2 separate regions of the Homo sapiens genome follow, and region 1 is linked to region 2. The links come from fine-mapping of genetic effects on gene expression. Tissue or cell type: whole blood. Region 2 holds a variant in brackets; the other region holds the start of a gene. All regions are shown on one strand. Distances are from middle to middle.

Region 1 (5,000 bases), 75 kb after region 2:
GCAAAGACAGCCCAGGATGAGCAGGAGTTCTGGAGACCTTGGCCTCTGCAGCCCTGGCTCTCACCTGGTACACAGTGGGCAGGATCCAGCCGTTGCTCTTGCAGAGGGTACAGATCTCGGCCACTTCCCAGGCTGCATAGTTGGAGAGGCCAAGCTCCACGAACTTGCCCTGCTCAGGTGAGGCTCCAGTCAGAACATAGTGCAGCCCAGACCAGGAAAGGGAGGCCAGGGTGGGGCCCCTGGGAGTTGGGCTGTTCCCTGCTCCACCCTGGAACAGCCCTGGTGCCTCTGCTCTCACCATTAGGATCAGGATAAGGAGAGCAGCAGTGGACCACCTCCCAGAGCTCAGGGGTCCCCTCACCTCCTGGTGCAGCTGGTGGCAGGCACGCAGTGTCTCTTCCACCGGGGTGCTGTGGTCTGGCATATGCAGGTAGAAGAGGTCCACTCGGGGACACTGCAGCCGCTTCAGTGACGTCTCCAGCTGGAACCGGAGACTGTCAGGCTTCAGGGAGTTCCCAAACAGTGGAATGGCCTTGGTATCAATTTTCACTGAGAGGAAAGAGAAATGAAATTCAGGGCCAGGCGCCGTGGCTCATGCCTGTAATCCCAGCACTTTGGGAGACTGAGGCAGGCAAATCAGAAGGTCAGGAGTTCAAGACCAGCTGGACCAACATGGTGAAACCCCATCTCTAATAAAAACACAAAAATTAGCTGGGCATAGTGGAGCCCGCCTGTAGTCCCCAGCTAGTCCGGAGTCTGAGGCAGGAGAATTGCTTGAACCCGGGAGGCGGAGGTTGCAGTGAGCCGAGATTGTGCCACAGCACAATGTCTCACAGAGTGAGACTTCTCAAAAAACAAACAAACAAACAAAACAAACAACAAAAAAAAAGAATCTTAGTTCCTAGTGAACTGGACTAACAGGTGAGTGGAGAGTCCTCTTCCCACTTTTCACACTTAGAAAGTCACCTAGGCTGGCAGGAGGGCAGTCACTGGAGCCCTTGAGGCCTAGCAAAGAGCAGGTTTGAGGAACTATTCATATGGAATTTTTCCATTCCACCACCACCCCTCTGCTTCTCAATTGAATTTAACTTCAGATCAGATCTGAGGACTTTCGCCAGCCAACCTTGGACTCAGACAGAAGACAAAGAAGGATTAAAAAAGGAAAGAAAAAAAAATCAGAAATAAGGGCCAGGCAGAGGGTACAGATCTGTGGTGGCTCACACCTGTAATCTCAGCACTTTGGGAGGCCAGAGCAGGAGGATCACTTGAGCTCAGGGGTTTAAGACCAGCCTGGGCAACAAAGTGAGACTCCAGTTTCAATGAATAATACAAAAAATTAGCCGGGTGTGGTGCTACTGTAGTAGTCCCAGCTACTCAGGAGACTGAGGTGGGAGGATGGCTTGAGCCCTGAGAGGTCAAAGCTGCAATGAGCCCTATCGCACCACTCCACTCCAGCCTGGGCAAAAAAGCAAGACCCTGTCTCAAAAAAAAAAAAAAAATCAGAAATATGGTTAGAGCTCTCACTGAGTGGCAGCCGGGTGATCTAGAAAGAGCGTGGCACTGGGATGCACGCACAGGCCAGGTTCGTTCTGGATCTACCATGTGGTGAATCAGAGGAGAAATAAGACTCCACTCAGACACTCAGTGGAAGGAGGCAAATGGTGCTAATACTAAGAACAAACAAACAGCTAACATTTCCCAGCCCTCACTATGTGCCTGCCAGGCATCGGCCTAAGCACTGCAAATGGCATCAGACTGAGGGCGGCTCCTCCTGCCCCTATACACACATCCTCCCCTCCGGCCACACCTGCCTCCTCCAGCACCCGCGGCATTGCCAAAACACATTTGCCTTTCCACACCCATGCCCACTGCCCTGACGCCCTTGCCCCTTGTACTCTTCCTGGCAAACTCCTATCCATTCTTTCTTCACGGGGTCCCTCCCAGGAAGGGGTCACTCTGGGCTCCCCAGCCATCTCTAGAACTGGAGCTTCCTGGAGTGGGTTAGTGTCCATTTCTCTCCAATAGCCTCCGACAGAGCCTCCCACAGAGAGGGCAGTGAGACTCTGTACCACCCCAATCCCTCATCCCCCTGAGGGAGCTGCCAAGGCTTCCGGGCACTGCCACCCTTGTGAGGTGCCCTTGTGAGTACCACAAGGTACTCAGAGCAAAGTCCGGGGCCCCGAGCAGGCTGGCATGTGCAAAGGAGGAAGCAGATAGTGTGCTGGGTCCAAACTCTGATTTTGGACTGTGCCAGGGAGTGCCAGGCGGTAAGAACAGAATTTCTGCAGATCAGGCCCGTCAAGGGCACCTGGAGGGCACAGGTGGGGACAGGAGCTGCACAATGCCAGATCCCAGTGTTTTTTGTGCTCCAGAGAGGGGCTAGCCAAGTCATTCCAGGCAAGACCAAGTCATCCAGGCGTCAGTGAGGGTGCTGGCTACCTCCCGGAAGAGAAGAGAGACGAACAGAAGAGAAGACGAGAGAAAAGTTGTCCGGAGCTAGACGTGCCTAAGGAGCCTGGTGTTCCCAAGGCTGCGAGGTGAACAGGGGTGGGGGCGGTGGGGGGGACAAAACTTTGGGTGCTGCCCCGGGGCCAGGGAGAGCGGGGCGGTACACGGCTGTGGACAGGCTCAGCTCTGCACCGTGCAGGGGGAGGATCAGGGGCCACTGTTACCTCTGCAGTCGCTGCCGCCCAGCCGGAGCCCCAGGCCGCCAAGGATGGTCTCGGACTGGCCCTCGCTGTACACGAAGGCCGTGTCTATCTCGGTGTGGCCGCGCTCCAGGAAGGCGCGCGTGACTGCGGCGCTGGTGGGCGCGTCCATGCGGCGCCCCATCTCCATGGCGCCCAGCACCGTGGCTGGCCGGGCCCGCGACAGCTGCCGGGACATGACGGCGGCAACGGGAGACTGTGACAGCCCAGGAGCCGCGCGCAGCGGTCGGAAGCACCAGGCTCGGAGCGGGCGGCCTCGTGGCTTTAGAGACGGGCTCGGGCCCCGCCCACCGGCGGGTGCAGCTGAGGGCGCGGCCGAAGGTGCCCGACGCCGCCCACGAGCTCGACTCCACGCTCGGCTACTAGGACCTTCTGCACTTGCACCGAGCAAGCAGCGAAATGGCTGTGGCTTCGTACCGGTGACTCGCGTCTTGGAGATTTTAACACTCCTCAACGTCCCCAAGGGTGAGGGGGTCCAAGGGTGGCGACTATCCCAAAAGGCGGGGACTCTTCGGGCCTCCCTGCCCCGTCGTCCCTCCTTCCTCGGCCTTGCCCCGGAGCTGTCCTGGGTTTCTGTCTCCTCCCGGAGGGAGCGCTTACGGGGTGGGGTGGACCTAGGGCTGTCGCGCCTGCCGTGTGGTCCTGGAGAATGAGGCTTACCAAAGGCTCAAGACAGCGTCCCCATGGAGTGACATGGTTAAAGTGTTGAAAGAAAAGAACTGTTGGCATTGAATTCTGTACCTAAGTGAAAAAAAACTGACTGGCTCTGGTGACTTAACGCCTGTAATGCCAACACTTTGAGAGATCAAGGCAGGAGGATCACTTGAGCCCAGGAGTTTGAACCCAGCCTGGGCAACATAGGGAGGCCCTGTCTCAAAAGAAAAAAAAAAAGATAGAAAAATGGACCAGTGCCCAGCGGCAGTGAGCTGTGATAGCTCTACTGCACTCCACCCTGGGTGACAGAGGGCAAATCTGTCTCCAAATACAAAAGAAAAAAAAAGACCAATAGACAGATGGAACAAATGAAAAACCAATAGCAAAATTGATTTAAACCCAATCATATCAATAATTACATAAATATAAATGATGTAAATGCTCACAAGTAAAAGGCAGTGATTGTTAGAATGGATAAAAAAGCAAAACCAAACTATATGGTAAATACCAGAAAGCTATTCAAATATAAAAGCAGAGATAGTTTAAGAGCAAAAAGATGGGAAAAGACATACACTGACAAAACTAAATTTTAAGAAGTTGGAATGGCTAAGTGAATATCAGACAAAGTAGATTGCAAAACAAAGAATACTGGCCCACACAGTGGGTGACATACTAGCCCACACCTGTAATGTTAGCACTTTGGGAGCCTGAGAAGGGAGGATTGCTTAAGTCCAGGAGTTTGAGACTAGCCTGGGCAACACAGGGAGATCTTATCGCTACAACAAAATTTTAAAAATTATCAAATTGTGGTAGCATGCACCTGTGGTCCCAGTTACTTGGGAGGCAGAGGTGGGAGAATCATCTACGCCTGGGAGGTCGAAGCTGCAGATTGAGACCCTGTCTCAAAACAGCAACAACAACAACAACTACCAAAGACAAAGAGGGACATACCATAATGACAAAGAGGTCAATTAATAAAGAAGATATAATTCTAAATATATATGCACCTAAGCATAGATCATCAAAATACATGAAAAACAATAATGGAACTAAAGAACAAGTAGATAAATACAAAATTATAATTGGAGATTTCAACACACCATTCTCAATAGTTGTAGAACAGTTATCAGTCATAATTTACGGAAACTCCGTAAAGGTATACAAGACTCAATGCTATGAACCAATTCCACATAAACAACATGAATAGAATATCCAACAACAGCAGGATATGCATTCTTTTCAAGTGCCCATCCACCAAGATATACCATATTTGGAGGCATAAAACAAGTCTTAATAAATGTAAAAGAGGCTGGGAGCGGTGGTTCACGCCTGTAATCCCAGCACTTTGGGAGGCCAAGGCATGTGGATTAACTGAGGTCAGGAGTTTGAGACCAGCCTGGCCAACACAGTGAAACCCCGTCTCCACTAAAAATACAAAAATTAGCTAGGCGTGGTGGCGTGCCCCTGTAATCTCAGCTACTCAGGAGGCTGAGGCAGGAGAATCACTTAAACCTGGTTGGTGGAGAGTGCAGTAAGCCGAGATCAGGCCATTGCACTCTAGCTTGGGCAACAGAGTGAGACTCCATATTAAAAATAAATAAATAAATAAATAAATAAATTTGAAAGGATTCCAATCAT
Region 2 (5,000 bases):
AAAGAGCGCCATAGTTTACAAAGATTTCTCCCTCTCACAACACCTTTTAATCACTGATCCGTATTCCCTTAGCACTCAAATCTCTTCTGTTTGGATTGCCCTCATTAACAATCTGACCAGCTCGTACAATGCATCCCTCTTTGCAATTTGCCACGTATGCTTACGTGTTCCCCTTTTTTCTACTGGCAAGGAAAGAATGTAAGCTTTTATTCACAGGAGATGTCTGAGACTTTTGCCGGTAAAATGATCTGGCTACAAGGTCTAAGAGGGAAAAGCAGTTTGCTCGAGGAAAGGTATTCGTGCATTAAGGACAGTCCTGTGAGTGAGATATTGGTGGACGGCTTCAAGCTCTAGCCTGTGGCCTACAGCTGGCCTAAATAAGACTGGGAAGGAACTGTGAAGACGGTTTCAAATTCCTAAAGCCCTGAAATTCTCCCCCTAAGTTTAGGAAGAGCTTTTGTTCTTGGTGTGTAACACTGATAAATGAATTGGTACCTAGTGATTAATCTGCACTTTTATTAAGATATGACCTACTTTACCTTTTTTGAGACAGGATCTTGCTCTGTCGCCCAATAGCCCAGGCTGGAGTGCAGTGGCAGAGTTGCAGCTGGCTGCAGCCTCCACCTCCCTGGCTCAAGTGATCTTCCAGCCTCAGCCTCCCCAGTAGCTGAGACTATACAGGTGCAGGCCACCACTCTTAATTTTTTTTGTTTGTTTTTAAGAGACAGGTCTCCCTACGTAGCCCAAGCTGTTTTCGAAGTCCTAGGTTCCTCCCACCTTGGACTCCCAAAGTGCTGGGATTACAGGCTTGACCCACTGCGCCCAGCCTGCATCTTTACATTCGAAATAAAATTCAGTCAAGTCAAAGCCGGTCTTGGAGGAAAATGTGGCTTTGATGACAGCAGTAGGGATTTTCCTTCAGTGCCTACTTACCAGAGGATAATAATAACAGCAAGTTTCTTAAACATAAAAACATCAGAAATGAAAAAGAACTTTCCATAACACTATAAATATTGCAGTATTTCAAGATACTGAACCAGAGCCCTAAGGAAAGGCTGGAGACCCAGAATTTTATAATGGCTTTGGGACATGAATTTTATTTTAACCAGAGGACAAAATTAATCTGCAAAAGCTGTCTTGGAGAAATTTCAGGAAATAAAAGATCAAATGTATCTGCTGTCCTCCCTTCCCTCTCCAGGAGAATAAAAGGCAAATGCAAACTATCACAGGGAGATTTTCACCTTTACCTAAATTATTTATTATATACTTTATATTTCTGGTTAATAGATTGGGAGAGAGCACTCCAGATAAAGAACTTCCTTTATAAATGCCACATTTATTTCAGTACTGGAGGTTTGGTCTTGTGTTGCCACAAAGATTTGGAATGGCATCTATGTTATAAATTTAGATGACAAAAGAGACTAATAAAAGACTTCTAGATGAAACACAAGCTTCTAATATTCTGGTCCAGGAAATAAGATAGAAACTAAAAAACAATAAATAACTTTTATGAATTAACTGAAGGACTTAAAATACTTGTTCCATTCTAATCCCAAGTGTCTGCCAAGGAACTGAAATTTAAAATGATAAAAGACATGATACAGTCATGTTACAGGGAATTCAATGAAGTAAAAATGGCAGACATTGATGAATGGTATGGTTTAAAGATTTGTGTAGAGGTAGTGATGAGGAGGCCTGCTGGGAGCTGGAAAAGTTCTATACCTTGACACAGTTATGCTTACATGGATATACACACACAGTAGTCACTAAGCCATGATTTGTACTTATGATTTGCACACTTTGGTGGTTGTAAATTGTACAGCAATCTAAAAACAAATGAGGTCAGTGTGCCTCACTACAGAGCTTCAAAAGTGGTAGATAGCACATCTCTTTTTTCTTTTAAGCCATCTAATACAGAGTTGCTTGGAATAAATCCTAATAGATACAGTGTTTCTAGAAACAAGTAAATGAATAAACCTTAGCTGTTACCCCGTAGGAGCCAACAGAGGTCAATCTGTTCTCAAGCTTTTACAAAGTTACAAGAACAAGTAATCAGTGCATATTTTGTTGAAACTCCTACTGCAATACTGAAAACTTCAAATGGAGAGCAGCTCCTTTTTGGTAATTCACAACAGACTTAGTTTTCAAATTACCAAGAATATAAGGAATTAGATTAGAAGCCTAATTCAATTTAGAATTATGAGACATTATTTGTAACCCACAA[G/A]TATTATTTTTCCCATGATACTGAACAATTCACCTGGCATGAACTTAAAAGAAGAAAATGCTTATTGCAGCCTTCTTGCTTTAAGAGCGAAAAAAACAATTTTGCTAGCTGTGGAGGGACTAGAATACAATGTCACTTTAAGATTTACACTCTCAAAAGTTTTGACCTATCAGATTGAGAGCCAGAGAGAGAGACAGACAGAAGGAGAAGGATAAATCAAATGTGGTAAAATGTTAACCTTTGGGGGATCTGGGTAGAGGGGATCTGGGAATTATTTGTACTATTGCAACTTTTCTGTAAGTCTGAAATTGTGTTGTCAAAAGTCAAAAGAAAAAATTTATAAATACTTTATCATCCATTTGCTTTATAATTAGGTACAGAGTATGATGACAGAGAGAGCCTACTGTATGCCAGATACTTAACAGAAGGAAAGTAGTTTATATGTAAACTCTGGGAAAAGTGGAGCCAAATGATTACACTGTGTGTACCCTTTAGCACTGTTTGGGGTGGGGACATGGGGGGTCAGGGTGCAGAGAGGGACTGTTCTGGTCTCCTTGGAAGGTATGTGCCTATAGTAAAAAGCATGAGTAAGATATCACATCTCCTAACTCCGTAACAACCAAGCAAACTTATAATAGCATTTTAACTTATATCACCTTTTTTATAGGAGCGGATATATATTCCAGCAGCATGAGTATTTTAGCCCTCTTTGCAATTGCAGTCTTCATTCATTATCATCAATAAACTGGCCTCTGGTTGATTGATCTAGTCTAGTTCTTATTTTATCACAGCACATGGGATATATGATATCATCAAAGCCATGATGTGAACAAACCATGAGGTATAATGGAGTTTGTATGAGTAATTGTGCCTTTTAATTATAGTTTTAGTTTGCTTTCTTGACTTCCATTCATTCAGATTGCACATTAGGGGACAGAGAAGAGGGTGCTTCAATATAAACCTTTGGCTATTTTACAAACACACTTTGCTAAATGTTCTTAGTCTCTATCCTGCAAAAGTCACCTTCTTGGATCAGAAATATATAAAAGCCTTAGTGCTGGTGGAAAACAGGCTTCTTCGTTGGAGGTCAGTCTCAACTAACTTCACACTCTGATTCCTAAAAAAAAATGGGAAGGTGGGTGTGTACACATCCTTTATGTTACAAATTTCTTACTGGAAAGGTGACCTAAATATTAGACTTTCCCGAAAGAGTATTGAGTCTCATAAAAATCTCTAATGGAACAGCACTTAAGAATTTCAACCGTGTGACCACTAAGAATGGTGTAGATCCATTACCTCTCACATAGGCACTCTCCACGATAGACTAAGTGATAAAACCAAGCTGCAGAAGATTGTATTACCTGGAGAGATACCAAATTGTTCAGTGGTGACCTCTGGGAAACATGGTGGGGGAGGTTTTGAAGGCAACACTCACCTTAATTTGGGGATATTGTTAAAAAATTTTTTTTACTTACATAGTCTTTTTAAAATAAAGAACTTAGCCACAAAATCAAAACAGCTGATTGATATGAAGCACCAGTATCTCCATTATTGAAAGGTTGCTTCAAGAATGCTGAATAGTTTGTTACATTTTACAAAAAAATGAAAGAGCACAGGATGTTGTCTACCTGTTTTAATTATGGAAGGATAATTGTCAATTTTTAAATAGCAAGATAGTTATAAAGAATGTTTTCCAAAGCAATACCAAAGAGATACTTTTCCCTTTTAGAATAGAAATTATGGTACCATGCAGCTTATTTCCCCATATTGATCAGGTGAGCATTTGTCTTAAGGAGTAAGAGAGTTTGTCAGACCTGGTGTCCATGGCTTGCCAGAGAGGCAGATTGAACTATCTCTTGGCATTTCCATAAATATACAAAAATTAGCCGGGCATGGTGGCGCACGCCTGAGCCCCAGCTACTCGGGAGGCTGAGGCAGGAGAATCGCTTGAACCAGGGAGGCAGAGGTTGTGGTGAGCCGAGATTGCGCCACTGCACTCCAGCCTGGGCAACAGAGTGAGACTCTGTCTCAAAAAAAAAAAAAAAAAAAAAAAAGAATTATTGGGGCCAGGCACGGTGGCTCACGCCTATAATCTCAGCACTCTGGGAGGCCACACAGGCAGACCACCTGAAGTCAGGAGTTCGAGACCAGCCTGGCCAACATGGTGAAACCCTGTCTTTACTAAAAATACAAAAATTAGTTGGGTGTGGTAGCACACTCCTGGAGTCCCAGCTACTCGGAAGGCTGAGGCAGGAGGATTTCTTGAACCCGGGAGGTGGAAACTGCAGTGAGTCGAGATCAAGGCACTGCACTCCAGCCTGGGAGACAGAATGAGACTCTGTCTCAAAAAAAGGAAAAAAATCCTTTACTAAGTCACCGAAGTCTTAGAAATTTGGGAAACTGAGGACAAAGTTCCTAAGGGTTCTGGAGAAGAAGGTACAGCCATTTGGGGAACTATTTGTCAAGGAGCAACTTCATGTCTGGGACAATAGGTAATTCAGAAAACAGTCCCTAAGAGACACAATATCTGAAATAATAAAGGGGTGTGGTATATCACTCAGGAAGTTACGTGGTAAGCAGCCAGGATGGTTGAAGGTCCTGAGTAGCTGAAACCAATAGGGAAGACTTTATGGAGGAGTTCAGATTTGAGACAAGCCAGATTTTAAGCAGGGAAGAAAACATTCCAAGTAAAGAAAACAGAATGGTTTCATGATTTAAAAGCAATTTTTTCATTTTATTTATTTTTGAGACAGGGTCTCACTGTGTTGCCCAGACT

The links. PIP is the estimated chance that this variant, and not a neighbour inherited with it, causes the effect.
Region 1: AKR7A3 starts here. The variant in region 2 is fine-mapped to the expression of AKR7A3 in whole blood (TOPMed, PIP 0.91).

What each region holds. Positions count from the first base shown.
Region 1 is chr1:19,285,824-19,290,823 of GRCh38, forward strand. It overlaps AKR7A3 (aldo-keto reductase family 7 member A3), which reads right to left and starts at 2,947. Exons shown (of 7, transcript NM_012067.3): 1 at 2,673-2,947; 2 at 362-549; 3 at 65-169. The coding sequence starts at 2,886. It overlaps LOC124903867 (a long non-coding RNA gene), which reads left to right and starts at 2,237. Exons shown (of 3, transcript XR_007065521.1): 1 at 2,237-2,537. RefSeq lists enhancers at 2,180-3,002, 3,003-3,824.
Region 2 is chr1:19,210,731-19,215,730 of GRCh38, forward strand. EMC1 (ER membrane protein complex subunit 1) reads right to left here. Exons shown (of 23, transcript NM_015047.3): 23 at 4,930-5,000. All of the region lies in intron 1 of EMC1-AS1 (EMC1 antisense RNA 1), which reads left to right. Among named protein-coding and RNA genes, the nearest start is that of EMC1-AS1, 2.8 kb to the left of the region's middle. RefSeq lists a silencer at 551-620. The variant G/A (reference allele first, on the strand shown) is at 2,225.